Linked DNA regions of Homo sapiens: all the other regions are linked to region 3. The links come from fine-mapping of genetic effects on gene expression. A gene starts in region 3. Each other region holds a variant in brackets. All regions are shown on one strand. Distances are between the middles of the regions.

Region 1 (9,969 bases), 130 kb before region 3:
TTTGCTCCTGGAAGTCGTGACTGTGAAACGTGGATGTTTTGCTGTGACGTCCATTGCTACTCTCATGCTGGGGTCCTGCTCTCTCTGTCCAGGTTCCGTCACCGCAGAGCTGGACATCAAGGCCGAGGACCTTCTCAGTGGGCAGAAGTGTGTCTCTACAAATAGTGCCAGGTCCTTTTCATTATCCTCCCTGGTCCCTCCCCTCCCCTCCCCCTTCCCCTCCCTCCCTCCTTCCCTCCCTCCCTCCTTCTCTCCCTCCCTCCTTCCATGTCTGGAGAGAACCCCGGCTTGGAGCAGGCATGCTCTGCTCTGTTACCGAGTTGTGAGGCAGATCTCGGGCCTCCTCACTCACCGTCCCACTGGCCAGGAGTTCGGAGGGCGTGGTTGGGGGCTCTCAGTTGGGGTCTCTCAGTGGGTGCCCTTGGAGGCTGCTGCCATTGAAAGCGCTCTGGGGTGAGAGGCCGGCAGTGTTTGCTAGGGGTGGGAGCTCAGCTGGGCTGCCAGAAGGTGTCCCCACATGGGAACCCCTGGATGGGGGGCTCGGATGGTGGCTGTCCCCTGCAGAGAGATGGCCCAGGAGAGTGACGTGGGCTGCCTGCTGCTCTGCACCGGCCTGGGCATGGCAAATCACTGTGCTGTGTCCACTTTCCAGTGTGGGGCCTTGAGCACTGCCAAGAGGTTTTGCCCCAGGGGCTTCCAGGAGGCCTTGCCATCGTCAGTGCATGATACCACCTCCCTGGGTCTGAGGCTGCGTCCTGGAGTGCATGGGTCCCTCCGAGGGACTAGGACCGGCAGATACTCAGCGTCCACAACTATGAACACCTGAGCAGAGGCGGGCTGGGATCCAGGCCCAGCTTGCTGGAAGCTTCTCCATGGGATCTCTCAGGATCCCCATTTTCTCCCGTACCAGTGAAGAAAACCAGCATCCACCCACCACAGAGCCCACAGCTCAGGCTCCTGGCCCAGTGGCCTGGTGATGCCTGGAGACCAGGCTTTGTCTGCTGGTCACTGCTAGAGGCCCCTGGCCACTCTCACTTGATCTCCCGCATGGAACTTCCTGCAAACTCTTGAGCGGAGGCGCAGTGGCCACCATTGCCAACATTTCAGTCAGCAGGACTGTGGGCCTGGAGAGCCCCGGGAGCTGAGGTTGCAGAATCGGGATCTCAAAGGCCCCCACCGACATCCAGTCCAGCACTTCCTGCTGGAGTCCGAGGACACTTTGAGCTCCGCCTGGAGCTGTCTGCTGGCCCCTCAGAGGGCGTGATGCGGGATGCGGCTCTGGCCACTCGCAATGTGGCTCCAGGGAGGCCGTCTCTGGGGTCTCCCCTAGAAAGATCTGTGAACAGGGTAGCCCCCCAGAGGCCCCTACCTTTCCAGTGGCTGAGATGCAAGTGGCTGGGGCCTGGATGTTGCCACTCAACCCGTGGTCCCTGCAGCAGGTGGCCCTGGCCCCAGAGCTCGCCGTGGCGCTGGAGGTGCCATCAGATTTTCAGGCCAGTCGGGTGACTCCTGACGCCCCATCTCTTCTGGGCATTACTGTCACCTGTCGCATGCCCCAGGTCCGCTCAGCATCTGCTTCCTGAGGACCTGAGCTGACCAGGGAGGGGTGTGGCTGAGGTGCTTCCCTCGTGGGCTGCTTTGCCCACCAGGGGATCTCCCCCAAGTACTCACGGGACTCTCCAGGGGACCCCCTGTAGAACCAGGACCACCCTTACCAGGCCTAGGACCCTCCAGGACTCCTCATCTGTGGGACTGGGCCTGGCTGGTCCCTATGACTGAATTGAGTGGTGAAGCCACCTTCTCCTGGCTCCAGGAATCTCATGGACCCGGGATCTTGGGTGTTCACCCCTAAATCCTCCCTAAGGCCCCTCAGGCCACCCTGCCCTGCCAGGAGCCCACCCTAAAGGTGAGTGAGAGGCCTCCAGGCAGAGGAGACAGCCAGGCAGGGCCATGAGCAGGGCCGGGGAGGAAGCTACGTGGTGAGCCCGGAAAGGCCGGCTCTTTGCTTTGGGACTCAATGTTACTGACCTCATTTTTTATGTATCCGAAGTGATCGTTTCAAAGAACAAGCCATAAAACTGGACTCTGCAGATGTTTCTCCATAAATTAAACAGGCATGTTTACCTTGGGCTGAAGCAAAACAAACTTGAGGCCCAGGGCCTCAAAACCATCATGGAGGTGGGGAGTGCTGAGAAGCAGGGAGCGAGGGAGGCAGGGCGAAGGGCGGGAGCAGCGGGAAACCACCAGGCCTCTCCCCTCACCACTCTAGGCCCGTCCGTCGGTGCAGTGACATCAGCCTTTGTAAAACACAGGGACAAACCAAACGGTTCCTCCCATCCTCAGTCAACACAGCTGACTGATCACCAAAACATGTGCGTTTCTCCCCACCAGCAAGTGGTCCTGCAGTGGACAGCAGCCGGGGGTCCTCTATTCAACTCCAACCTGATGCCGTCCACCCAGGGTGAGCCTCAGAGCCCACAGTGAGGGCTCAATCCCGCAAGACAGCCCCCGCCCCCTTCAGATGCTGGTCCCACCTGGAGTGACGTGAGAACCCACAGTGAGGACTCAGTCCCGCAAGATGGCCCCGCCCTTCAGATGCTGGTCCCACCTGGAGTGACGTGAGAGCCCACAATGAGGGCTGAGTCCTGCAAGATGGCCCCCACGTTAGAGGCTGATGGCAAGTCCCGGCATAGCCTGTGCTTCTGACCAGCTGGTTCTAAGTCAGGGTTCCCACGACCCCCGCCTTGGGTTTAATTTGCTAGAACAGCTCACAGAACTCAGGGAAACACTTTATGCATGTTTACTGGTTTATTCTAAAGAACACTGTGAAGGATAGAGATGAAGAGATGCGTAGGGTGAAGTGTTGGGGAGGGGCATGGAGCTTCCATGCCGTCCTGGGCACTCCCTCCAGGCACTTCTGTGTGTTCAGCTTTCCAGGAGCTCCCTGAGCCAGTCCTTTGGGTTTTATGGAGGCTCCATTACTCAGCCTGATTGATTGCATCATTGGCCATTGGCAATCAACTCAACCTTCAGCCCCTCCCATCTCCCCTTCCTAGCCTGATTGATTGCATTATTGGCCGTTGGCAATCAACTCAACCTTCAGCCCCTCCCATCTCCCCTTCCTAGCCTGATTGATTGCATCATTGGCCGTTGGCAATCAACTCAACCTTCAGCCCCTCCTATCTCCCCTTCCTAGCCTGATTGATTGCATCATTGGCCATTGGCAATCAACTCAACCTTCAGCCCCTCCCATCTCCCCTTCCTAGAGGTCAAGGGGTGGGGCTGGAAGTCCTAATCCTCTAATCATGCCTGGTCTTTCTGGGTGACCAGCTCCATCCTGAAGCTGTCTAGGAGACCCCAGCCCCCAGCCAGCTCATGAGCACACAGAAGACACTCTCACCACTCCAGAGAGTCAAGGGCTTTAGGAGTTGTATGCTGGGAAACAGGGACAGGGCCACATATATACTACACAGTCTCACAGTCCTCCCGATGGCTGCCTCTGTCCTGACAATGTGGTCAGTACCACCCCTTGATCTGCATCTCACTGGGGACAGTCCCCCAACCCCATCCATCTCAACACCTTCTCCACGAGCAGCTGGGCAATTGCTCTGAAATGCAAGTCTGATAATGGCCACCTCCTTGGAGTTCGTGCTCCAAGTCCCATCTCAAAGGAGGCCCACGCCACCCACCGGGCTCAATGTTGCCCCTGCTGCACCTCTTCCTCTTGCTCCTGCCCCCTGCTCCATGTTGATATCTCCCCCCATAGCATGACCACCTCCTGATGTGCTGTGTGACTCACTTGCCTGGTTTCCTGTGTGTGGGCTGTCTCCGTGGGGCAGAGACTTTTGTCTGTGTTCTTCCCTGGTGTGCCCAGCACAGTACCCTGCATCATGGGGTGGTGATGGAAGGACAGCAGTGACAGCATGTATCCGTCCAGCACTTGCCAACCCTGGGCAGGCACTGGTTGGTCTTCCAGAGGACTAAGGCGATGACCACTGTTACCAGTCACGGAGGAACATCAGATGAGAGAGGCGAGGACCTCGCCCCAGGCCACAAGGCTGAGACCTGTTCAGGACAGGCTTCAAACCCAGGCGCTGACCCTGGTCTTCGGTCTTACCCACTCTGCACTCCTGCCTCTGAAGCTGGTGAGGTGGGGGCCAGGGTTCAGCAGGTAAGCTCTCCCCAGTGTGCCTTGTTCTTTCCAGACAGGAAAGGCTTGGGATCTCATGGGTAGGAGAAGTGAAAATCACTGATTATTTGGTGAACACAAGCCAGCTGGGCACTCACTATGTGCCAGGCACAGTGTGAGGCAATGGGGCAGTCCCCATGCTCAAGGAATCCCAAGTCTGGTGGGGGAGGTCAACAGGAGGCAGACAACGGAGGCACGGTGGGGAGGGGCCGGGATGGGTGAGGCATCTAAGGCAGGCGTTGGGGCCAGGAGGCTCTGGAGGAGCTGGTGTCTGAAGGGAGACCTGAAGGAGAGGCGGAGATGCCAGGCCGCGGCGGGGTGGACAGGATTCGGACAGCAGGGGGAGGCTCAGTTCCAAGTCTTTGGTTGCAAGCAAAGAGACGCTGGCTCCAATGGACTCAATTTTAAAGAGATTTTCAGAGATTTCCAATTCCAGCCAAAATGGTATAACAGGGAGCAATAAAAAACAGCCAAAGCTCCAGAGAGAACAAATGAAACATGGCGTTCATGACATTGGCTGCAGTTCAGCCAAGGAGCGCAATTGCTAAGAGACAGGAAACCCGTTCTGCGAGCCAGCGCCTCCCCAGCTCACTGCCTGCAGAGAATGTCCAGGCTTCAATGCGGGATGCCGTGGCCAGGCCAGCAAAGGACATGAAATAGACCCGTAATACATTCCCAATGAATTCAGAAGAAGGTGGAAAAAGAGGAAACAGGAACCCAAAAAAGGGGGAAAAAACAGCAAGACGACAGTTTTAAAAGTGATCATTAATAATTAAATATAAATGTTCTAAACACTTCAATTTAAAGGCAGAGTTTGCCAGATAAAGAAAAAGAAAGAACCAAAATATGATAGGCATAAAAAACTTTAAATATGCAGGCAAAATAGGATAAACCTGAAAGAATGGAAAAAGACATACATGCAATCACTCATCAAAAGAAAGCTGGAGTGGAGATGTTACTCCCTAAGTAGACTTCAGAGTAAGAATGGCCGCAGGGATGAAGGGGTCACTTCATGACGCCATGGAGGTCAGTTCATTGAGGGACATAACATCCTCAAAGTTTATGCACCTTCTAGCAGACCTTCCAAGTCGAAACAACTACAAAGCAAGATGGAAGTTTACAATTATAATTGGAGATTTCAACACTCATCTTTCAAAAGTTGACTCAAGTAGACATAAAACTGGCAAGGATATAGAAGACTTGAACTCCATCCACCATCTTGACCTAAGTGACGTTTATGGAAACCCTACCCTGACATCAGCAGAACACTTCGTTTCAAGCACACACAGAACATTTGCCATGACAGGTCATATTTTGAGTCATAAAACAAGACTTAATAATTTAAAAGGACTTGAATCATTTGAAATATCTTCTCTGACCACAGTGGAACTAACTTACAAATCAATAGCAGCAGCAGAAAGACATCTGGAAAATCCCCAGATATTTGGAAAACAGCTAACACATTTCCACAGAACTCTTGAGTCAAAGACGAAATCAAAGGGAAAATTAGAATGTGTTTCTAACTGAACAATATATCAACATTTATGGGATGCAGCTGAAGCAGTATTTGGTGGGAGTTGTATAGCATTCAAATGCTTGTATTAGGAAAGAAGGCAGGTCTCACATCAATGAACTCAACTCCCACATCACAAAACCGGAAGAAAGAAGGGCAAATTGAACCCAATATAACTAGAAGAAACGGAATAATAAAGATAAGAGTGGAAATCAGTGAAATGGAAAACAAAAACAACAGAGAAAATGAATGAAACCCAAAGATGGTTCTTTGGAATATCAATAAAATTCATAAACCTCTAGCTGTAGTGGTCAGGAAAAAAAGAAAGAAGATGTAAAGCTTCACTATCAGGAACAAGAGACATGATACCACCACAGACTCCACAGGTGCTTCCGTGATAACAAGGGAATACTGTCAATAACCTTAGGCCAGTACATTTGACAGCTTAGATGAAATGGACAAATACGCTGAAAGACACAGACTACCAAAGCTCACGTTGGAAGAAACAGAGACCCTGAATAGCCATGCTGGTATTAGAGACATTGCATTCTTAGTTAAACACTTTTCCATAAGGCAACTTCTGGGTCCAGAGGGCTGCAATAGTGCATCATAGCAAACATCGAAGGAAGAAAGAATGCCAATTCCAGAGATACTCTTCCAGAAAATTAAAGAGGAACAAACACTTCCCAACTGTTCCCTTACTCAGTCTCTGGTGGTTCTGCCGGGC[G/A]TCGGGCTGTATGAAGGCCCAAGGGGTGAACAGATCAAAGGAAGGCACAGTGTTTGCTCTGAGTCTGCAGCCTGCCTGGGGAGTCAGGATGCTCACACGGGGCCCAGCTGCCTGGGATGTCCATGTTCAGTGCCAAATTGTGAGGTTGGGATATAAACACTGGCCCCATCCCGGCCTCTGCAATAGGTGGGGGGCATATATTATTTATTTTATTGAATTTTCACAACCACCTCGAGGTGCTGTGAAATTTTTCCCTGACTTTAAAGATGAAGAAACAGGTCCAGAGAGAGGCACAGTGACTTGCACCTTGACATGCAGCCAGAAAGCAGTGGAGCCAGGATTCCAGCCAGGTCTGTCTGACCAGCAGCACCGCTCCGGCTACTGCTGGCTGTGCAGTTAGTCCACGAGGATCTAGGGCTCCTCGGGAAGCCCATGGGAAGCCTCGCCTTGGTCTAGGATGGATGGCACAGGTGAGCCAGGGAAGGTGAGTGACCGAGTCAGAGGTAAGAACATCTGGGGTATTTTCAGAACGTTTTCCATAGGTGATGCAGCTTTGCTAAGTGCAGAGTCGGGTATAGGCTTTGGTAGCAAACGGAGTTTATCGTGGGAGGCCTGGAATGCAGGCCTCTGGGTGGTGGTTGGCGGGTCACGGGGAGCTCAGTAAGGTTCTAGAGCAGATGCTGATGTGGTTAGACTCAAAGCCTAGGACTGTGGGGGATGAGGAGTACAGGAGGGGCCGGAAGCAAGAGCTCAGCTCCTTCCGAAGGGTGCCAGTGCTCAGGGAAGAGGCTGGAAGACAGCGGGTGAGGAGTGGCTTAGGGGGCACCTGGGGGCTTGCGACTGATGGCATGGGGTGGGAGGAGGGAGGGGCTGGCAAGATGTGGCTAAGAAGTTGAGTGGGAGGGAGAAGGAGGAGGCCAGGCCCCAGGAGAGCAGGCTGTGGAGGAGCAAAAGGGCCTGGGAGGGAAGAGGGGCTCAGGCGGGATCAGGAAAGCTGAGGTTTGTGGGCACGGGGCTCCAGGTGGAGGACCCCCGGGAGATTCAGCTCTGGAAGGAGGGTGGACGGGAAGAAGGCACAGGAGAGAGACAAGATGGAAAGAGGGTGGACCAGGGACGAGCCGGGAGTCTCAAAGCCATGGGGTCAAATCAGTTAGCCTGGGGCAGACGCTAGGGCGGCCAACGCTGAGAACGTCATGTGGAGGAATGGGAGGGAAGAGGCCCTGGAAACAGCAGAGAGGGGCAGAGAGGGGGCGGTCTGGGACCGTGACGGTGACTCAGCTGCTGTTCCTGAGTCACCCACACGTGGCTCCCCCAGGGACAAAGCCGTCCGTGGGGACGAGGAGGCTGGCCAAGGGCTCCCCAAGGAGCATGGGCTGCTTAGACCTGCCTGGCTCAGAGAAGACTCAGCTGTTCTACTGTGCGATGCTCCGTCCCTTTCTTTCCTGATCTTGTTTTCCTGGAGCGAATTGCCCATCTCTCATTTGCTTATTTTCTATGTATGTCAGGTTCTCCAGTGAAACAAAACCAGGTGTGTGTGTGTCCATGTGTGTATGTGTTAGGGGGACCCACCTTCTAAGCAGTAAGAAGTCTGCATGTAACTCTGGACTCCCTTCAGACATAACCACTAATAGCCACCAGCAGACCGGAAGCCTCACCGTTAACATGCACAGTTGATGAACACATATTTTGTCTGTTACATGTATTATATTCTGTGTTCTTACAATAAAGTAAGCTGGAGAAGAGAAAATGTTAAGAAAATCAAAAAGGCCAGGCACAGTGGCTCACACCTGTAATCCCAGCACTTTGGGAGGCCGAGGCAGGTGGATGGCTTGAGCTCAGGAGTTTGAGACCACTCTGGGCAACATGGTGAAACGCCATCTCTACTAAAAATACAAAAATTGGCTGGTTGTGGTGGCATGTGCCTGCAGTCCTGGCTACTGAGGAGGCTGAGGTGGGAGGATCGTTTGAGCCTGGGAGGCGGAGGCTGCAGTGAACCAAGATTGCACCACCACACTCCAGCCTGGGTGACAGAGTGATACCTCGTCACACACACACACACAAAAAAAAAAAAAAAAAAAAAGAGCGAGAGAGAGAAAAGAAAGTCATAAGGAAGAGAAAATCTATGCCTTTGTGCTCCCGTCCTTTGTGGTGCGCGGGCTTTGCTTTGCCGGACGGGAAGTGGCCGAGCCTCGTTTATGAAAACAGTACCAGGAGAAGGCTAAACGTGGGCCCCCTGCCCAGGGCGAGGGACTCCAAGGCATCCAGATGGACTTGCTTGGCCTGAGCTTTGGGAAGTGTTCTCCTAAATGGTGCTTGGGCACCTTCCATTTTCCCTTCCATTTTTTCCCACTCTGGAACTTTCTACAAATCTTCTCCCCGGCAGCTGGGCCTCACTGTAGTGCTCGGGTCTTGCCTTTGTCTCTGCGCTTTATCTCGGTACATTTTTATTCCACTTTCTGGGACATCTTCACCTCCTCTTCCAATCTTTTTCTTTCTTGGGTTTTTAGAACTCTGAAGACGCCCAGCAAGTGGGTGGTGCGTGGAATGAAGCGGTGGCTCCCGCGTGCTTCGTGCGGGTCGGTTTCCGGGGCTCTCGCGTGCTCCGCGTTGGTCGGTTTCCGGGGCTCTCGCGTGCTCTGCGCGGGTCGGTTTCCAGGACTACCGCGTGCTCTGCGCGGGTTTCGGGGACTCTGGCGTGCTCTGCGCAGGTCGGTTTCCTGGGACTCCCGCGTGCTCTGCGTTGGTCGATTTCCGGGGCTCTCACTTGCTCCGCGTTGGTCCGTTTCCGGGGCTCTCGCTTGCTCTGCGTGGGTCGGTTTCCAGGACTCTCGCGTGCTCTGCGCGGGTGTGCGGGGCTCTCGCATGCTCTGTGTGGGTTGGTTTCCGGGACTCTCGCGTGCTCTGCGCGGGTTTCCGGGGCTCTCACGTGCTCTGTGAGTCGGTTTCCAGGACTCTCGCGTGCTCTGCGCGGGTGTGCGGGGCTCTCGCGTGCTCTGTGTGGGTTGGTTTCCAGGACTCTCGCGTGCTCTGCGCGGGTTTCCGGGGCTCTCACGTGCTCTGTGCTCTTCTCCAGGCATCTTCTTCTTGTCCCACCGTCAGGATGCCGTGTGCCTGGGAGAGAGGATTACTTTCCAGGCTGCCCCACAGAAGCGCCATTGCCACCTTCTTCTATCCTCCTCCGAAGGTTTATTTGGTCTCTGTCCTTCGGGTTGGGGGGTTTCTCCATATTAGTTTAGTTCCGGAGCTGGCTGGACCCTCTGCGGGTTCCAGGCCCGTGTTAAGGGAAGGACATCAGTGTGGGGACGGGGGGTACTGAGTGTGTCTGCATGGGGCCAAGTGCTTTCTCCAGATAAAAACCACCCTGTGCAGGCAGGCGGGACAGGTACAGTCTTTAGTCACCCCTGCCTGCCGGACGAGGCTGGAGCATTCCAGGCCTGGTTTCTCCAGATGACACAGCCAGGCCTGGCAGCCCGTCCTTCAGGCCGGGTGGTCTCCTGCTGGGACATGTGCAGGGCGGTTCCTCTGCACCCCTCCAGCAGC
Region 2 (9,969 bases), 54 kb before region 3:
GTGATGGGGGGACTGCACCCCACAAGCCATACCCAGCTTCCTCTGCCGCCACTCCTCTGGGCATGGGGCCTTGGATGCCATGAAGATGCAGGACGCTGAGTCGCTGCTGCAGAGCGCTTCCTGGCCACTCCCTCCCTTCCTTCTCCGTCTGTTTTCCAGCACCTCCTCCTCTGTCCATGCTTAGAGGGTCAGTCAGCTGTGTCCCCGGCCTCTGCTCCCTGTGCACCTGCCTCCTTCCATCCCAGCGCTGACCACAGCCTGGAGCTTCAGGCCCAGTGTCTATCCACACCCTGGACATTCCCCGGAGGCTGCAGGACCTGGAAGCTCAGCTACACTCTTACTCACTCATCAGTGTGTTGGGCCGAGGGAGTCCAAGGCTGCAGGACCGCCACATCTGGAATATCCATGGAGGGGGTTCTGGAGGAGGCTGGAGTGTCTGGGAGCAGAATGTGCCAGTGGCGGAGGGTTGTGTCCAGGGTGGTTCTGGTCATACCGGGCAGAATAGCAGAGGGCAGAGAGCTGAGGCTGCGAGTACAGCGTGTCTGGAGATGGGGTGATTAGATCCATCCAACTTAGGTCCTGGCCGATGGTAGTTCCTGCAGGCAGGGGTGGCTGGCAGATGAGTGCCTGGTGTGGGGCCTCAAGTGTGAGCTGTGGCCAGCGTGAGCCAATTTAGGAGCTAAGAGCGAGGCCTACGGGAGGTACTTCTGCCTACTCTCTCAGAGCACACTGAAGCTGTAGGCTTTGTACCCAGGCCTCTGGCTCCCAGTACAGGCTCTCTCCGCCCCACGCCCACGCACCCTCCCTCCTCCAGCCACTGCGCTGGGGGCTCTGCTGGCTACACACTGGCTCCATCTGCTCTGGGCTGCATGGCAGGAATTTTTTGGATGACTCCTGTGAGGCAGCAGTCCCTTGGGGAGCCTGTGGTTCCCCCGCCTCTCTCCATTCTCACTCCCGAAATAGAGCCTGGCCCCGCCCTAGGGGACTGGGGGCTGGTGATGGGGACAGCCAAGCCAAGGGCCATGTGGTTGCCTCCGCGGACGCCCACTTCCTCCTGAAACCATCGTGGAGACAGAACGGGGAGGTGGCCAGGGGGCCGGAGCTGCCTCTGGCCTCTGCAGGGTGGAAGGGCCCCCAGAAGTCTTTCTGCCCTCCTGGGACTTGGTTCCTCTTCTTTAAAGGGGAAGGTGATATTCCCCTGTCCACCCTGAATTTACTGCAGAAGGGGTGAACGAACCCACCAGCACTGAAGGGATGGAGGTCCGCAGGGCTTCACATCAGGGAGGGACCAACAGGCCAGCCCTTGCAGATACCCCAGCCCGCCTTCGCTCTGGAGCACTCGGCCCACTAGAGTTTCCCCTCACCACCTGCATCCCATCCCATTCTGCAAGACTCAGTGCAGGATGTCGCAGGTGCTACCTGGAGCCTCTGACCCTGGGGTCTCAAAACCAGGATGGAGCCTCCAGCATCCCTGTGTGCCCCAGAAGGACACCAAGCCGGCAGAGAGCCATGCCCAACCCTCCTGCTGGGACTGCACCCTCCAAGGACCTCAGCCAGTGCTGGTGGCAGCGGGCTGGGCTGCAGGCCTCTCAGCCCCTTGTTGGGCCCTCCCATCCATCCATCCATCCATCCATCCAATTATTCAACCACAATCCACTCCCCCAGCCTTGCACAATCATTCCCCAGGCTACCTACCCACCCACCCACCTGTACATCCCCTCACCCATCCACTCACACATTCAGGCATATAGGATTTATCAGAAACCCACCTGCTCCACCTCAGACCAGCTCAGGTCCCAGGCATGCCAGCACATCTCCAGGCTGCCCGGACTTCCATGATTCACACATTCAAAGGTGAAAGCAAAGATCCAGGCCTCAGAACTGCTCATCACGTCACACTCTTGGATCCTAATTAATATCCAGACTTTGGCCGTGGGAGCCCTCTGTGAATGTGTGGCATGGGACTCCCACTGGGACATGGATTACAAGGGTTTCGCTGCTGGAATCAGCTACTGGGGATGGGGGGTTATGGTAGCCATTGAATTCTAGGACGGAAATGGAGGGAGCCTAGAGACGCCTGCTCTGACATATACGAGCTGTTGCCACTGACTTCTTAGGGCTTCCTTCCATGATATTTATTCAACAAGGAAGTGCTGAGGCCTGCAGTGCCTGGCTCTGGGCTAGGGGTGATGATTCAGCAGGAGCGACGTGTTCGGGACCACCTCCGTCATGGGGGTTGTTCAGGGAGGGGTGCTGCACTCTTGGCTGATTGTCCACACCACGGTCTAGGAGCAAGGCCGCACCCCAAAATGCTGTTTTGTGCTAAGAGGGACCTGGAGGACTGTGAAAAGGAGGCCCCTTCCCACAACCTCCCCAGGTCTGGATGCATTTTGGGGGTAACAGGAGGTGAGAAGGGCTCAAATTAATAATCGGTCTCTGTTTGGGGTTGTTTTGGCTGTCATGGAGTAGGTGAGGGGAGCTGCAGGTACTGTGAAAACCCACCGAGGACCTGGGCCAGGGCCAATGGAGCCCTCCTGGCAGGGGGACGAGCTTCCTGAAGGTCATGGTCAGGATTTCACGCCCCAGACACAAGGAAGCAGCCAGAATCCTCTACCGAAGGCTTGCGGACTCACAGCCTCGTCCGGAGCACTAGCGTGCTCATCCAGGGGAGGAGGCCCGGAGGCCTCCAGCCTTCCTGACCTGAATTTCATTCAACCAAGTTCCCCGCTCCAGGGTTTGCAGGGTGATGATTTCCTAACCCGGTTGCAGAACTTTGCGCTAATTTCTGGGACGCCTCGGGGCTGTCTGCTGCCTGGAAGTCAGAAGGACCAGGACTACGATCTCTGCTCCGCAGAGTCCAAGCTGTGTGACCTTGGGGGCGTGGCTTCTCCTCTCTGAGCCTGCTTTGGTGCTTTCCTCCAGAGAATTGGAGGAGAGAGCTGAGCGGCCCCACATTGCTGCCCTGTAACCATGTATCCAGCACTTGGGACACCCAGAGGGATCAGACTGGACCCATCCCTGCTTCTAGGAGCCCCACCTAGAACACTCACCCAGGGGGCAGAGAGCCGGGAAGCACCGGCCGGGAAGGCGGCTCGTCCAGACTCTGGAAGCGTCTGATCTTCTGAGGCTTCTGCCACAGTGGCCATCCTCTGACAATCCTGCCCACCCACCCCCCGCAGTGGGCTTGCCAGGCCCTTCCCGGCCCTGCTCCTGCCCTGTCCCGGGGAATCTGAGGTCTGCCAGGTTTCCATGGCCACAGCCTCTCTGCTCTGGAATTTGCTAGTCCAGCACACCGCGGTGGGGGAGTGGGAGAAGGCTGTGCCTCCTGTCAGGAGGCATGGAGGGAGGTCACGCCTGACCACGCTCCGCATTCCAGTGGAATTCTAACTCAGTGTGTGCGGGGAGGCACACAGAAGGTTCTGGTCCTCCTTGCGGGGGGCCTTCAGACACAGAGTGGCAGTGGGGACCCTGGAGTGAAGGGGGTCCTGCTGCGGGTTCGCTGTGTTGGTGGCGATGGCCACCCACCCTGATTTTGCAGGTGTGGGGCCTGGCTTGGAGGGGGCATGTGTCCAGGGTCACTCGAGGCCAGCCTGGCCTGTTCTTGCTCCTGCTCTGTGTCACTTATGGCATACCCAACCCCCCTTGCCAGCTCCTCAGCTGCAGCTCCTGGGGTGGCCAGGAAGCTTCCAGATCCACATCCCCTAGGGGTCCCACCAGGGTCTTCGTCGAGCTCCCTGTCTTCCTAGCACCACCCTCCACCGTGCTTCTCCCACGGCCCTGTCAGGCCTCTATCAGGAGCACGCAGCAGAGCAATTTGACATTTTGGGCAAAAAAAAACCGAGAAAATGAGCATCAGCAACATACTTGGTGATGGAGCCGGCTGCTCTGTCTCCCACATGCAAAGCCTGTGCTGTCTGCAGAGTTTGACTGGCCCGTGTGGAGCTGCTCCCTTCCACGTGGTCAGGAGCAGGCTTGAGCTTATCAAGGTCTGGGCATGCTTTGCTCGGTAAGAAAGAGGGTGGGAGCAGACCCCTCGGGCAGAGGAGAAGGAGACCCGCACAGACGCCCCGTCCCGTCCCCAGTGCGGCCGTCTTCGCCCTCTGTGGACCTTCTTGGCCGTGGATTGACTATTCAGAGGCTGCCTGCTCCTCCGCCCAAGGTCTGCTACACGGCGGGCAGGGATGTGTGAGGCTGGCTGTTTGTTCCGGTTTCCCCAGAGTCCAGGCAGGGCCAGGCCCACAGCAGGAGTTCTGACCTATTTGTTCAATGAATGAATGCAGGAATGAATGAGTGAGACCTTGTGCCAGCCCCCGGTGTTGGTGCTTTCAGACCACTCCCTCTCACGGCCCTTGGATGGGGCGTCGTTACCTGGCTCTCGACGTCACCAGTGGTGGAAGTGAGGTGGGCGTACCATGAGGAGTATCACAAAGTTGCCCCAAACCTGCTTTGAGCTATGACGGCAACACCGAGGCTTTTGCTTTAGGGGACACCCCAGAACTCAAGCATCCAACTGTGGTCATCCTGGGGCCACCAGGGGCGGGGCTGTCCAGGGCTGGCCCTGTCTACCCCGTCCCTACCCTGTGGGTCCTCGTCCCAGCTGGCCTCAGCCCAGTGCGCTCCCCTAACCAACGCAGCCCAGAAATCATACTGGGGTCTTCGGATGTTGTCTGTATAGGCAGTCCCTGAGCTGGGAAATGACGGGGTCATATTTGTGGACAACAAACTTCTTCCTCCTCACCCCAAACCAGAGCCTGTGGCAGGGAGAAGGACAGAGCCAGCCCACCCTGCCTCCACCTCCCCAACACCCTCTGCTTCTCCCCATGACCCGGCCACCTGGGGCACATCCTTGCCCTGGGGTGCCTAGCAAACTCCTACACAGACATCAAAATCCAGCAGGCCCCCCTCGACTCAGGGCAGGGACTAGGTCTTCTCTCCTCTGCTCTCTATAGCACAGGGAGGATGGAATATACTGAGGGACAGGATCCCCCCTTTACTGATGGGGAAACTGAGGCCACACCTAGCGCAACAATCTCCAAGTTGCAGAAACCTTGGTAGCTGGTGCTGGAATTTGGAGCCCCTAATTCCAAGCCTGCTGTGGTCCCTTCCCAACCATGCTGCTCGGTTGTATGTGCCAACCTGGCCAGGCCGTGGTCCCCCATGATCCCAACACATGTCTAGAGGTTGCTGTGCCAGTGTTTTGCGA[T/C]GTGACGCACATTGGCAGTCAGCTGACTTTAAGGAAAGGAGATGGCCCCGCATAGCCTGCGGCAGCCTCATCCAATCCACTGGGGCCCTCGGAGCAAACTCTGAGCCTACGTGGAGGAAGCAGGAATTCTGCCTGGAGACTGTGGTGGAGAAGCCCTGCCTGGGTCTGCAGCCTGATCCGCAGGGGGATCTTGCCAGCCCCCACAACTGCGTGGGCTGATTCCCTAAAATACATGTCTCAACATGGACCTCTCTCCCATCAGCTGTTTCTCAGTGGAGAATGCTGACTGGCACATCAGCCGGGACCTCTCACAGTTGTGGGCCCTGTGACCCTCACCTTGCTCCCATCATCCTGTCCAGCCGCCCACTCCTCCCCCTCTGCCCCGGCCAGTCCCCACACCCAAGCGGAGTTCCAAGACGGTCCCAGCAGCACTGCCCGCTGCTGCCTCTGAGAGCACAGCCACTGCGGGGCCAGCGCAGCCACTGAGGCGATTAGAGTAGGGCAGGCCCAGAAGGCCAGAGTCGCCTGGTCACGGGGGCCACAAGACTTGGGGCAGAGGTCGAGAGTACAGGCCTTGGAGCTGGCCCCCGCCCAGGTTCAAACCCCGGCTCGGTCGCTTGCTATCTGCATGGCTTCCAGCACGTTCCCTCAGTCCTCTGTGTGCCCCTATAAACTACAGACGAGTGTCGCGGCGGCTACAAGCCAAGTGCCCAGAGCTGTGGCTGGTGTGTGGTATGTGTGTCCCAGGAATCTCAGGGCTGCAATGATCACTGTGCAAAGTCCCACTGAGCCGGGTTCAAAGCCCACACGCCCCTCACTCCCTGTATTCAGGGCTCTCAGGAAATAGAACCAATAGGACGGATATGTATAGAGAGATAGCAAGAGATTGATTGTCAGGAATGGGCTCACTGGACCCTGGAGGTGGACAAGCCCTGAGATCTGCAGGTGGCAAGCTGGAGACCCGGGAGAGCCAACGGTGCAGTTCTAGCCTGGAAGCTGGCAGGCTGGAGACTTAAACCCAGGAGGGGCTAATGGTTCAGTGCAGGCTGGAAGGCCAGCGAAAAACCAGCTCAGCCGTCAGGCAGCAGGAGCTCCCCTTACTCAGCCTTTCTGCTCTATTTGGGCCTTCAACTGATTGGCCGAGGCCAATCTGCTCTCCCACACTGGCGAGGGCCATCTGCTTGACTCAGTTTGCCCATTCAAATGTGAATCCCGTCCAGGGGCACCTCACAGACACCGCCAGAGTCATGTTGGACCAAATATCTGGACACATTGTGGCTCAATCAAGTTGACACGTAAAATTCACCACCACGTTCACAAACCCAAATTGAGAGCCGCTGCCGCCGCTGTGGGCCTCACTCTGCAGTGTTGCCTCAGTTTCCCTGGCTGCACAGTGAAGGGCACGCTGTGTGACTCCAGCACAAACCCCAGCACCCCTGGGATCAGCAAATGGCAGGAATGACTGCTCCAGCAGTGAGAGCTGAGGCCGGGGTCACAGCAAACCATGGACACAGACCCTGCTTGGACTGCCATGGCACTACCCCAGGCTCTGCCCAGCTCCTTCCCTATTCTGTGCTGCCTGGGCCTGTCCAGCAGTCTCGGTGTGTGTCGTGTCTGTGGGGTGTATGTGTGTGTCTGTGTGTGTGTGCATGTGTGTTTGCATGTGTCATGTCTGTGGAGGGTATGTGTGTGTGCATATGTGCGATGTGTGGATGTGTGGATGTGTGTGTGTGTCTGCATGTGTCTCTCTGTGTGTGTGCATGTGTGTTTGTGAGTGTGTGCCATGTCTGTGGAGGGTGTGTGTGCATGTGTGTGATGCATGGGTGTGTGTGTGTCTCTGTGTGTATCTGCATGTGTCTGTGTGTGTGTGTGCATGTGTGTTCGTGTGTGTCATGTCTGTGGAGGGTGTGTGTGTGCATGTGTGTGATGTGTGGGTGTGTGTGTATCTCTGCATGTGTCTCTGTGTGTGTGTGCATGTGTGTGGGTGTATGTTATGTCTGTGAAGGGTGTGTGTGTGCATGTGTGTGATGCGTGGATGTGTGTATGTCTCTGTATCTCTGTATGTGTCTCTGTATGTGTGTGTGCATGTGTGTTTGTGAGTGTATGTCATGTCTGTGGAGGGTGTGTGTGTGTGTGTATGTGTGATGTGTGGATGTGTGTGTCTCTGTGTGTGTGTGTGCATGTGTGTGTGTCGTGTCTGTGGAGGGTGTGTGTGTACGTGTGATGTGTGGATGTGTATGTGTCTCTGTGTGTGTGTGCCTGTGTGTGTGTCATGTCTGTGGAGGGTGTGTGTGTGTGTATGTGTCTCTGTGTGTGTGTGTGCATGTGTGTGTGTCGTGTCTGTGGAGGGTGTGTGTGTGAGCATGTGCATGTGTGATGTGTGTATGTGTGTGTGTCTCTGTGTGTCAGTGTGTGAATGCACACAGCTGTGATCAGGTTGGAACTAATTGCTTGGAGCCATAAGCTTACCTTGAATTCAGAGTTGGTTATTTTGACCCAAACTTGAACTCCACATTTTCCAGTTCACTAGCCTTGTTTTTTTTTTAAGTAGTTTCCTGACTTTGATCAAAAACAAGCCAACAAACAACTGGAAAGAACGAGGAAAGGCTCCGGGCAGCCTTGGCAGGTGCAAATGAGAAACGAATGCCGCACGAGGCTCTCCAGTTACACATGGGCTTTCAAATAGAAGCTGGAGGAAGTATTGGGAAAGGTGGGTGCGCCGGGGCTTCTCACCTTGGAGGCCGCCCTTCCTGGGGTCAGTGGGGGGCATCCCTGTGCTGTAGTTCCTGGGTCTGGGGGCCGGTGGGGGCAAGGCCCAGGAGCCAGGCCTCCCCACGAGCCACGCTGCTGACAGATCCACCCACTCCAGCAGCCCAGCAACCGCGTACCGTGGTGACACTGCATCACTGCCCCTCCTGTACAGAGCGGGCTGGGGCTCGGGAGACTTGGGAGCCTGTCACGGTGAGCTTGGAAATGGCAAAGCCAGGAATTCACTAGGATAGCTGATCCCATGCCTGGGCCTGCTACCGTATCGCATGAGGGCGTCTCCCCACCGGGCGCACAGCCTGTTCCCTCTGACTGAAATACTCCTCCCTGCCCTTGCCACTCATCTTTGCTAAGAGTTCTAGAAAGCAGAGCCTGAGGCATGGATTAAGCGCTAAGGGTTTATTTGGGGAGGGAAGGGTGCAATTTCAGGGCAGCAAGAGGGAGGAAAAGGGAGGGGAGTCAGGGAAAGGCAGAAACGACGCAGGTGACTAACGGGCGAGCCGTGGTCCCCGGGAGCAGCCAGACGTCCTCATGGGATGAGGACGTGCCATGCCTGGCACAATCCCCTCAGAAGGAGGACGGGGAGGACGCCCTCCAGCTCCCGTTGCCCATGGGGCTGTCTTCCTGGGGAGTTGATGCCAGGCTACCTCTTGTAGATGCTGGGAAAGGCACTCCTGTGCCTGGTGGCTGGGCCCTTGGACAGAGTCTGGTAGTAGAGGAAGGATCTGGAGATTCTGGGACGGGAGATGGTCAGCCCCAGGCCAAGAGGCCACAGTTTCCTGCTCAGCAGTGTTAGAAGCAGGGATGGAGCAGAGTGGCCGGGGGTTCACGAGACAGGGGTGTCCCCCGCAGGCTAATTTTGGCTCAGCCTCTCTGGCCTGGCTATCCTGGAGCTAACCTTGCACTAACCCAGAACCCCACAGGGTGACCTTATTTGGAAATAGGGTCTTTGCAGAATTGAGGTTGTACTGGACGAGGACCAGCCCTTGCCCCGATGACAGGTGTCCCTAGAAGAAGAAGAGGTGGCACCGACACAGACAGGGAGGCCCCGGGACCACAGAGGCAGAGACGGAACCGTGCAGCTGGGAACCCAGGACAGGCAGGAAAGATCCTCCCTGGGGGCTTCCAAACTTGTAGCCCCCAGAGCCGTGCGGGAGAGAATTGCTGCTGTTCGAGCCCCCTCTCCCTCCCCTAGCTTGAGGGTCTCTGTCATGTGTGGCTTTCTTTGGTCTGAGATTGCCCCAAACAGGGCTTCGTTCCCAGGAGCGGCCATTGTCCCTGTGGGCCCTTCTTCAGGCTGTCAGATGTGTCTACCTTTCCTTCTGTTCCTGACCGGGGCCTGGTGGCTGGCCCTGGAGATGAGGGGGTTCCAGGTCCCCCCGGGCTCTGGTTCCTGGGTAGGTCTGTTTAGGGGAGCAGTCGGTGGGGGCCCTCCAGGGACATCTAGGGCTGAACCTGGCCCACTGTTCTCTGTCTTCCTACCCTGGGCCAGGCCCTGTGAGTTGCAATCATGGACTGGGGGAGACAGAAGCCAGGCAGGGAACATTCCAGGAGTGTGTCTCCAAACAGATATGTATCCTGCTGGGGGACCTTGGCCCTGGGGCTTGAGCTCTGACACTGAAGGTAGTTGCAGCAGCTGCCGCCGTTACCGACATCTCCTGGGGAGGGTTTGTGAGCCAGAAGCAAGGCTTGTTCTGCAAACACCTGTCAAGCGCCTCCTGTGTCCTGGGGACCCTGGCGGGATGAGTAGGGACACCATGAGGCCACTGCTCTGAATGAGGGGTGCCCAAGGCCAGTAACATGTAGGGGCACCTGGTCCAGTCATGGGGTCAGAAAAGGCCTTCCCAAGGGGATGCTGGAACTTGGTCTTGAAGTTGAAGTGGAAATTTGCTGTATGAAGCAGGAGGAAGGGTGTTACAGGCGAGAGAACAGCACGAACAATGCCTTAGAGGACTTCCTGGCCCTCCTGGGACCCCACCATGTCATTGTGATGGGTGATG
Region 3 (9,969 bases):
ATTTTACAGACAGGGGAAACTGAGGCCCTGGAAGCCAGAAGGCTCCCCCACTGCCAGACAATAAGTAAGGGAATGAGCAGGAGCCTAAAGCCACATCTGATGACCCCAAACTCCATGGAACTGAGAAAAGGGCCTGTTGGCCAGGGGCACTGGGGCCTGGCACAAGCAGCCACCAGGTGAAGGCACCCCCTGCACTCAGCACCCAGCAAGCATCAGTGCGGCTAAGGAGGCTAGAGCCAGGCCCACAAGCCCATCTGCCCTTCACGGCACCCATCCTGCCACCAGGCCTTCATTCAGCTCTTTCTGTGAGCTGAGAGCCCAGCCCTGGACCAGGCAGTGGGGATGGGACACAGCTGAGATGTATGGTTACTGATGATGGCCATGCCCCATGGGGCATGCAGGAGGCCGGCAAAAGTGGCCCAGATCCAGCCCGGGAGGTCACGGGAGGCTTCCTGAAGGAGGAACATCATGGGACAAGTCTTGAAGGAAGCGAGCCCCAGGAAAGATGAGGCAGAGGGCATCCAGGCCTGCGGACAGCACATGGTCAGGCCCAGGGTCCACAAGAGTTAATGAGAAATGTCCTCACAGCTCACAGCGTGGAGAGGAGGGCTGACCGCAGGAGCCAGGTGGAGCTGTGCAGACCAGGCAGGCGAGGCAGAACCCAGCCGCAGCCCCGGAAGAGCTGGCTGCAGCAGCAACCCAGAAATACATCTTCTCCTCAGCCTAGGAGGGTGGGCAAGGCCACAGGTGCCGCATATGTGTGTACACATCCATATATGCGAAGCCATGTGTGCACATGCATGACTGGTGTCATGCATAGGGACAGATGTGTGCAGCACAGGCATACACACGTGTGTGCAATGTGCATGGATTCGTGTTATCTGCACAGGGAAGGCTGTGCGTGCCCGCAGTATGCACAGGTGTGTGCACAGCATGGGTGCATCATTTCTACATATGCCAGTGTGATACATATGCATGTGTAGACATACGTGTGCAAAAAGCACGTGTGTATGATAGTGCATATGTATATATGCACCTGCATGTGAAGAGTACACGGGCATGTGTATGCACACGCAGGCATGTGTGCATGTGTGGGAACATGTATGTGTGCATACATGTGTGTATATTCTGTAGGCATGGATGCACTGTAAATCCACATGGTATATGTAGACAGTGTGTGTGTGGATGTGTGCATGCATGTGTGTGTGAAGGCATGCAAGTGTGCATGAATAGGTTGCATGCTTGCATGCATGTGTGGATATGTGTATGTATGGGTGTTCATGCTTGCATGAACACACGTGTATTCATGATATGTATATTCATGTGTGTGCATGGATCTATGTGTGCACAAGGATGTGTGTGGATACATATATGTGTGTGGACACTGTACATCTGCGTATGTGCATGCATGCCTGCATGTGCAGGGAGGGGGCTCAAGGAGCCAAACTCCCCTCCACCCGAGCTGAGGCTGCTCACGAAGCCTAGAGCGCGGCATCCCAGGCAGGCACCCAGCTCTCTCCGGCACAGCAGCCAGGGCCCAATGTCCCATGGCTGTATGGCCCTGCTGGACCAACCCTGTCCTCCTAGGCCCCACGCATCATGGGTGAGATACAGGCAGGTTCGCCTCTGCAGCTCCAGGACGTGCCACTTCTAGGTTCTCAGTTCTAGGAAACACCTGTAGGTTTCCCCTCTGAAATATGCCCACTTCTGCCATGTACTCCCCTGCACACGTACACACAGACAGCCCCCACAACCCCCGCCAGTGCAGCCTGACTCCCCCAGCACCCTCCTTCCTCGCCCCTCCTGGTCGTGCCAGCTCGCGTCGTGCCTCGTCAGGACAGGAAGTCTTGCTGGGTACGTGCTGTTCTGCTTGTTACGGACAATCCGGAGCAGTTCCTCAAGCCTAATTTCAAGGTCTGGGGGAAGAGTCCTCTCCAGCTTCCTTGCAAACAGCTGCGGTCCCGGGCCCTCCCACCACAGGCAGGCCTGCGTGCAATGCAACCCCTATGCATGGCCCAGGGCTTCGCTCCTCCTAATGACTCCAGGCCCCAGCTTTTTGCCCTTGGCTCCATCCAGGCCCTGGAGTGGACCCTTCTGACCCCTCCCTGGTCATGCCAGGAGGTGTTGCCAGCAGCATGTCAGCCTGTTGGCTGCCATCCCCAAGGGCCTGGGCCGCTCACTGGCCAGGCACTCCAGATGCCCTCAGCCTGGCCTGTGAGTGGCCCCTGCCTTCAGCCCTCCTGGGCAGTGGGAGGCTCATCTGGCTCAGGGCCCCAGGTGCTCCGTGTCCTTTTCCCTCCAAATTCCCGTGCCTGGGCTGCCATCTCTTGGGAACATAGGAGCCAGGATCCTAGATAGATCCCCATGCCCCTGCGCATCCCCCAAAGCACTTCTCAAAAAGAGAGCCCTTCAGGATGGGGGTGGGAGGCACGCTGATGCCGAGGGAGAGAGACCTTCTCCAAAGCCTGCATCTGGCCCCTGCCACTGCTCTTTCCTAGTCCTCCTGTCTCCCCACGCCCCCAGTACAAAGCCCACTCCCACTGGAAGAAGGACAGCCTACAGAGGCCTCCCCCTTCCTCATAACACCTCCTCACTCTCTAAGCACAGTTTGGTCACCTCCTCCAGGAAGGCTTCCTTGACAACCCCGCTCCCAGGCTGGGGGAGGAGCCCCAGGGCACTGATGGTTGTCAGCGCATTCACCTCAGTGGGTGGCCCCATCCACCCACAGATGGTGAGCACCTCAACTGAGGCCAGGCCCCCCTCACTCTCTGCCATCGCAGAGGGCTCAATAGAGACAAGGGCTCCAGCGGGCCGACCATGAAGGAAGCAGGTGTGTGTGGGCTTCCCTGAAAAATGCACCTCCAGGTGCCCTGGACAGGTGGCACCTTTTAGGCAACCAGAACCAGGAGGGCCTTTAGTAAGGATGGTGACCCTCCACCATCCCCAGGTCACACACCTCCCACAGGACAGCCATGGCCTGTTGCCTCCCCGAAGGGCATATGTGCCCTAGACTAGCACAGGACTGGCACAGAAGGCTTTGGCTCCAACGTGCGCCCCTGCTTGGCAGGCCCATCATCTGAAATATTTGCTTTCTGCCGGGCCCTGGCTCGGCCTCCACACCCCCAATGCAGGCCCTGCTGGTGACAAACATGGTGAAGAACGAAGCCGTAGCTCCTGGCAGTGTCTCTGCGGAGACAGACATGCTCCCCAGTAGGGCTGAGCAGCAGAGAACACGACAGGCTCTGAGGCTAAAGCTGGCGCCCTTCAGGAGCTCAGAGAGAAGCTGCCCCAGGCCACGGGCATGGATAGGCATCCCGGGGGTAGGGCAGTCACTCCAGCCGCTCTTCATGATGACCTCCCGGGCACTCAGAAGCGCCCCTTCCCCGCCGGTTCTAGCCACAGGATGGACAGACCTTCCCTCCCTCTCTCCTGCGGGCCCATGCAGGGAGAGGCCAGCCAGCTGGGGTTCGTTTCTGGACGTTTGGGAGAAGGGTCGTCCCTTCGGTCCTAGCAGAGAAACGTCAGGCCTGAGAACTCCAGCTCTCCTCCTGGATCACCTCGTCCCTGGAAGTCCCTCTCCCACAGACCCCAGGCTGCCTGGAGGCAGAAGCCAGCACCCAACATGGGCCACAGAGTGGCAGTGCACGTGGCAGTGCACATCTGCAGAATGGAGGTGCGCGGACGGGGGCGAGGGTGCACGGGGGCTACCTCAACGGCCGCTCTCCCCTGAGCCCACCCTTGCAAAAAGCTCCATCATCCAGGCAGCTCCGTTCTGGGTGTTTGTCAGAGGTGGTGACTTTGAACACCTCTCCATCCTTTAAAAGCAGGGCCTGAGAGCCTAAGGATTAAACTTCAATCACTGCTAACATGGGTGCAGAGCTTGGGAGCTTGCCCAGGGCTTCCACAGACACCGCCGTTAGTTATGATTCATGCTCCAGCAGCGCTGGGAAGTGGGCCGAGGGAACTGAGGCCGGGGTGGGTGCGGAGGTGGCTCTGACGGGGAGCGCCGATCCAGGATCTGGTCCGGACCCTGAGCTCGGCAGGACCTGTGCGCACGCAGGTAGCGTCGCGTCCTCCCCCAGGCTGCGAGAGGTTGCTCTGCCATCAGGCCATGGACCCCGAGCCGCCCGTGCTGCGCGCGCGCGTGTGCGCGCCCCCGCCTGCGCCCATGCCTGCGCCGGGGGAGGCGAAGGAGGCTCCAGTCTTAGAAAGAGCAGCTTCTGGAACTCACCACCCAGGCCGGCCGCCGCTCGGCCCCGTCCCGCAGGCTGCAGGCGGCCCTGGAGGGGGCGCCCTCGCCGAGCGCGCGCCCCGCGCCGCCGCCCCGGACTCCTCCCCGGCGCCGCGCGGGCAGGTTCGACCAGGCGGCCGCGGGCTCCGGTTCCCGGCCAGCTCCCCAGGGCCCGCGGCCCGCCCCGCCCCGCGCGCCCGCCCCGCTGCGCAACTCGACCCAAGTTGGAAGCCGATCGCAGGCGGCCGCACTCGCGCCCAGCGCAGGGCGGCGGCGGCGGCGGCGGCGCAGCTCCGGCGAGCGAGGCGGCGGCCGCACGGCCAAGCGTGGACCGCGGGGGGCGCCCGCGCCCGGGAGCAGCCGGAGGACTCGCGGCGGCGCCGGCGCCCCGCCCGGGAAAGTAAAGTTGGAGACGGAGGGAGCGCGCGGGCGCGGGGGCCCGGAGGAGCGGCGGCCGGCGCCCCGGCGCGCCGAGCCCTAGCCGGCCGGATGGGAGGCGGAGCGCCCGGGCCGCCGCCGCCTGTCGCCTGCGCCCCGGCTGGGCTCCGGGACCGCGGGGCCGCTCAGGCACGCCCGCTCGGGCGCCGCGTCGCCGTGGGCTCGACGCCGGGGCGCTCCCCGTGAGCCGGGCCGAGGGCGGGGCCGCGCGAGGACCCCGGGACCTGCCCCCCTCCCCCCGCAGCCGCGTCGCCGCTCGCTCCGGGCGCCTCCTGCTCTGCACTTACACGCTCGGCAGCTGCGGGGAGCCCGGCAGCCACGCTCTCCGGCGCGCCGCCCGCGGAGCCACCACGGCCGAGGGCCGGCTGCTGGGCGCCGCGGTCCCCGGCGGGCGCGCCCGAGCAGCAGGCGGCGATGCGGGCGCCGACCCCGGCTGGGGGGCGCCCGAGCTGCCGCGGCTGCGCCCCGGCTCCAGGAGGGACGGCGTAGCTCGCGGGAGGACCATGGCGTCCCCGGCGCTGGCGGCGGCGCTGGCGGTGGCGGCAGCGGCGGGCCCCAATGCGAGCGGCGCGGGCGAGAGGGGCAGCGGCGGGGTTGCCAATGCCTCGGGGGCTTCCTGGGGGCCGCCGCGCGGCCAGTACTCGGCGGGCGCGGTGGCAGGGCTGGCTGCCGTGGTGGGCTTCCTCATCGTCTTCACCGTGGTGGGCAACGTGCTGGTGGTGATCGCCGTGCTGACCAGCCGGGCGCTGCGCGCGCCACAGAACCTCTTCCTGGTGTCGCTGGCCTCGGCCGACATCCTGGTGGCCACGCTGGTCATGCCCTTCTCGTTGGCCAACGAGCTCATGGCCTACTGGTACTTCGGGCAGGTGTGGTGCGGCGTGTACCTGGCGCTCGATGTGCTGTTTTGCACCTCGTCGATCGTGCATCTGTGTGCCATCAGCCTGGACCGCTACTGGTCGGTGACGCAGGCCGTCGAGTACAACCTGAAGCGCACACCACGCCGCGTCAAGGCCACCATCGTGGCCGTGTGGCTCATCTCGGCCGTCATCTCCTTCCCGCCGCTGGTCTCGCTCTACCGCCAGCCCGACGGCGCCGCCTACCCGCAGTGCGGCCTCAACGACGAGACCTGGTACATCCTGTCCTCCTGCATCGGCTCCTTCTTCGCGCCCTGCCTCATCATGGGCCTGGTCTACGCGCGCATCTACCGAGTGGCCAAGCTGCGCACGCGCACGCTCAGCGAGAAGCGCGCCCCCGTGGGCCCCGACGGTGCGTCCCCGACTACCGAAAACGGGCTGGGCGCGGCGGCAGGCGCAGGCGAGAACGGGCACTGCGCGCCCCCGCCCGCCGACGTGGAGCCGGACGAGAGCAGCGCAGCGGCCGAGAGGCGGCGGCGCCGGGGCGCGTTGCGGCGGGGCGGGCGGCGGCGAGCGGGCGCGGAGGGGGGCGCGGGCGGTGCGGACGGGCAGGGGGCGGGGCCGGGGGCGGCTGAGTCGGGGGCGCTGACCGCCTCCAGGTCCCCGGGGCCCGGTGGCCGCCTGTCGCGCGCCAGCTCGCGCTCCGTCGAGTTCTTCCTGTCGCGCCGGCGCCGGGCGCGCAGCAGCGTGTGCCGCCGCAAGGTGGCCCAGGCGCGCGAGAAGCGCTTCACCTTTGTGCTGGCTGTGGTCATGGGCGTGTTCGTGCTCTGCTGGTTCCCCTTCTTCTTCAGCTACAGCCTGTACGGCATCTGCCGCGAGGCCTGCCAGGTGCCCGGCCCGCTCTTCAAGTTCTTCTTCTGGATCGGCTACTGCAACAGCTCGCTCAACCCGGTCATCTACACGGTCTTCAACCAGGATTTCCGGCGATCCTTTAAGCACATCCTCTTCCGACGGAGGAGAAGGGGCTTCAGGCAGTGACTCGCACCCGTCTGGGAATCCTGGACAGCTCCGCGCTCGGGGCTGGGCAGAAGGGGCGGCCCGGACGGGGGAGCTTTCCCAGAGACCCGGGGATGGATTGGCCTCCAGGGCGCAGGGGAGGGTGCGGCAGGGCAGGAGCTTGGCAGAGAGATAGCCGGGCTCCAGGGAGTGGGGAGGAGAGAGGGGGAGACCCCTTTGCCTTCCCCCCTCAGCAAGGGGCTGCTTCTGGGGCTCCCTGCCTGGATCCAGCTCTGGGAGCCCTGCCGAGGTGTGGCTGTGAGGTCAGGGTTTTAGAGAGCAGTGGCAGAGGTAGCCCCCTAAATGGGCAAGCAAGGAGCCCCCCAAAGACACTACCACTCCCCATCCCCGTCTGACCAAGGGCTGACTTCTCCAGGACCTAGTCGGGGGGTGGCTGCCAGGGGGCAAGGAGAAAGCACCGACAATCTTTGATTACTGAAAGTATTTAAATGTTTGCCAAAAACAACAGCCAAAACAACCAAACTATTTTCTAAATAAACCTTTGTAATCTAATGTTGGGTGCCGCAGTCAGTCCTTGAGCTTGGGGGCTGGGGGTATCTTCCAGACCCTCACCCTGCCTGACACCCTCCCCCATCTCCCCCACCCCACAATGCTGGACGGAGGGCACCCTGGGCCTCCGGGTTACAACTTCCTTCTTGCATGAGAAGGAGGGGTCTTGCTTTTTCTCAAGCTAACCCTTTATGTACATGGAAAATATGTACTCAAAATTCCTGTGCTGAGAGTAGCGAAGAGGTGAAAGGAGCCTAGAACCCCCAAGTTGACCCCAAGTTTAGATTCTGGGGGACTGTCTTCCCTGCATTCCCATCCCTGCCCCCTGCCCTTCCCCACTCTGATATTCAGGGCCTCCGGTGGAAAGAGGTGGGGCTCTTCCAGTCCAAGACTGAGAGTAGCTTTGAGCTAGTCCTCCTGGCTCTGAACATTTTGTGGGCGTGGCTCTTGGGTGGAGAGAGGGTGGGCGTGAGGCCGGCAAGCCCCCACACCATCACTCTTAGGCCAGAGGCCTGGCCAGAGCCAGGTTGAACAACAGGCACTTTCTTATTTCCGAAACAAACTGAAAGTCATTGAGGCCCCAGAGCAGTGGAGTGGAACAAACCAGCAATGTCTGGAGAGGGGCCTGGGGCCGGCCTGTTTCCTGTGGTGCCCCCAGGGTCTTCCCAGTGCAGCCCTGCCTTTCCCCCTTGCTCCACCGTCAGGCCCAGCAGGTGTCCACACTGTTCACACTGCTGCTTGAGGAAGGGCAGTGGAAAGTGGGGGACAGAATACCAAGGTGGGCTTCCTGGTGCTGGGCCTTCATGGTGTAGGGACCACTCAGACTCAGCCGTGTCACAGGGCCTGGAAGTTGCCAGGATGGCTGGAGGGGAGGGGCAAAAGCGGGACCTGCGCCTGGCAGGAGCTGGGCAGGGGTCCCCCCAACACACACGCACAGACAGCTCGGTAGGCGTGTGGGGGCTGTGTCAGGCCTCCTGCTTGTGACCATCCATTCCCCATTCCCGTCCCCCTTCCCATCCCTGGGAGGCCCCCCTGGGCTTCCCTATGTGTACCCTCCCCTGCCAGACCCTGCCTGCTGAGCCCAGCCCAGATCCATCCTGGATACCCACCTCTCTCTTTGGCATGGGGGGCCAGGGTCTGCCTGGGGAGGGGTCAGCCCTGGGTCCTGTGTTCTTCTGCAAGCCCCCGTCCGCGAAGTCAGGTTCCAGAGCAGGGGGACCTGACTTGCCAGAGTTGGCCCTTGGAGAACCCCCTCGCCGCAGCTGCCTGGCTTCCACCCCAGATGATGGGTCTTCAGGATACCCCAGCTGGGAAGAGCTCTCCCAGCCGTGTCCACAGCTGGCACATGTGCTAATGCTCACACCTGCTGTGTGCTAGTCTCAGACACAGGTGGGGAGATACAGACAGCAGTGGGGGCAGGGGAGGGGTGGAGAACATGGCCAGTCAAGGCCGATGAGGACATCCCTGACCTCCCCCGACCAGGCCTGGGCAGGGAGTCCTGAACTGTTGGCCCAGCTTGTCCTGGAGCTGTTGTACTGGCTCAGACAAATCCCTGCTCTCTGGGCCTCGGTGCCCCACCTGGGAAGTGGAGGGGGTCCTGGGAGCCCTCTTGGGCCCTGCCAGGCCTGCCAATCTGTTGGGCAATCTATCCCCTGAGCCTGGGACCACAGGAGACCCCACCTCAGAGACTCCATGGCTGACATCGCACCCAGGGACACTCTGAGGGCAGGCCTTGGGCTGCGAGAGAATCACTGTACACACATGAAAAAGACTCCAGAGCTCAGGATTTCTGCTCCAGAATCTGCATCTTACCAAGCCGGCAGGAGGGGTCCAAAACTCACAACTGCAAGACGGGAGGGCAGACCCCCAACCCCTCACCTGCCAGCACTCAAGACCCCAAGTCCCGCCCAGGGCACCCTTCCCTTGAGAGCACCAGCATTTCATGGGATAACTCGTACATTTCATGGGACTCAGAGAGGTGGATTAACCTGCCTGAGGTCACACAGCTGGTGATAAGACCCAACAGGGCCCAGGTTTCCTGGCCCCAAATTCAACCAGATAACAAGTATTTCTTGAGTATCTCCACCATTTCCTACTGCCTCCTGGGAGGTCTTCAGGAATGGGCAACTTCCCACAGCTGAGGGCAGACCCCACGTGGAGGCACAGCATGATGAGCAAGGGTTTGGAGGTAGGAGGTGCAAGTGTGTTTTAGGAAATGGGGTGCCAGCATGGGGAGGGGGAGACAATGCAGACAGGAGGCTGGACAGAGGGGCCGTGTGCCAGGCTGCAGGGGAGAAGCTGGTGGGAGGGTGCTTGGACAGAGTGTCAGGTTTTGATCTGACCCCCTGGGGGCTGTGAGGTCTGCAGAGGAAATGCAACCTCCCAGGGCTGGAGCCTGCCCTGTCACCTGCTCAGCAGTGTGGCCGACTGAGCATGTCACCTCTGAACTGCAGATCCTCCTCCCTGCAAGGGGATAACCACAGCCCCCCCACACCCAGGGATCCTGGGAGATTAACTTCGAGGATACAGCAGGGCACGCAGCCTGGTACACGCTCGGGGAAGAATGTCAGCAAACCTTCCTCCTCTTCCCGTCCTGACCCTGCCAGTCACACCCTCCAGGGCTATGGCCGGGACTGCAGCCGGCAGATGTTCACCACTCGATCTTGGTTGCCGCCTGGAGAGACTTTCTTTTCAGCTGGATAAACAGAGACAGAAACCTGGCTTCTCACCCTGCCTGCTGCAGGGACACGTGTCACCTTGCTCTGAGTCCTGGTGTCTTCATCCATGAAGGGGGCACTGACACCCACCCCGAGGGTAAGATGAGCCCCGAGTGCCTCCAAACCCAGCCCAGGAACCACCCGCCAAGGGGACTTCTCAACG

Which allele goes with the higher level. Alleles are on the strand shown, and positions count from the first base shown. SD is a standard deviation of normalised expression in the study named. Not every link is listed here.
In carriers of allele G in region 1, the expression in adrenal gland of the gene that starts at base 4,951 in region 3 tends to be higher than with A alone (moderate effect, 0.70 SD a copy in GTEx).

The links. PIP is the estimated chance that this variant, and not a neighbour inherited with it, causes the effect. A credible set is the group of variants that fine-mapping cannot tell apart.
Region 1: its variant is the best candidate, but not a certain one, in a credible set for the expression of ADRA2C in adrenal gland (GTEx, PIP 0.68).
Region 2: its variant is the best candidate, but not a certain one, in a credible set for the expression of ADRA2C in cerebellum (GTEx, PIP 0.85).

Annotation. Positions count from the first base shown.
Region 1 is chr4:3,633,076-3,643,044 of GRCh38, forward strand. It overlaps LOC112268461 (a long non-coding RNA gene), which reads right to left and starts at 2,283. Exons shown (of 4, transcript XR_002959775.2): 1 at 1,716-2,283; 2 at 1,370-1,592; 3 at 353-558; 4 at 1-155. RefSeq lists a silencer at 7,735-7,918. The variant G/A (reference allele first, on the strand shown) is at 6,430.
Region 2 is chr4:3,707,409-3,717,377 of GRCh38, forward strand. No RefSeq gene overlaps it. Among named protein-coding and RNA genes, the nearest start is that of LINC02171, 35 kb to the left of the region's middle. RefSeq lists enhancers at 6,142-6,643, 6,644-7,143. The variant T/C (reference allele first, on the strand shown) is at 5,204.
Region 3 is chr4:3,761,435-3,771,403 of GRCh38, forward strand. It overlaps ADRA2C (adrenoceptor alpha 2C), which reads left to right and starts at 4,951. Exons shown (of 1, transcript NM_000683.4): 1 at 4,951-7,092. The coding sequence starts at 5,173. The coding sequence ends at 6,561. RefSeq lists enhancers at 1-89, 90-623, 6,656-7,173, 7,366-8,051, 8,738-9,423 and 1 more.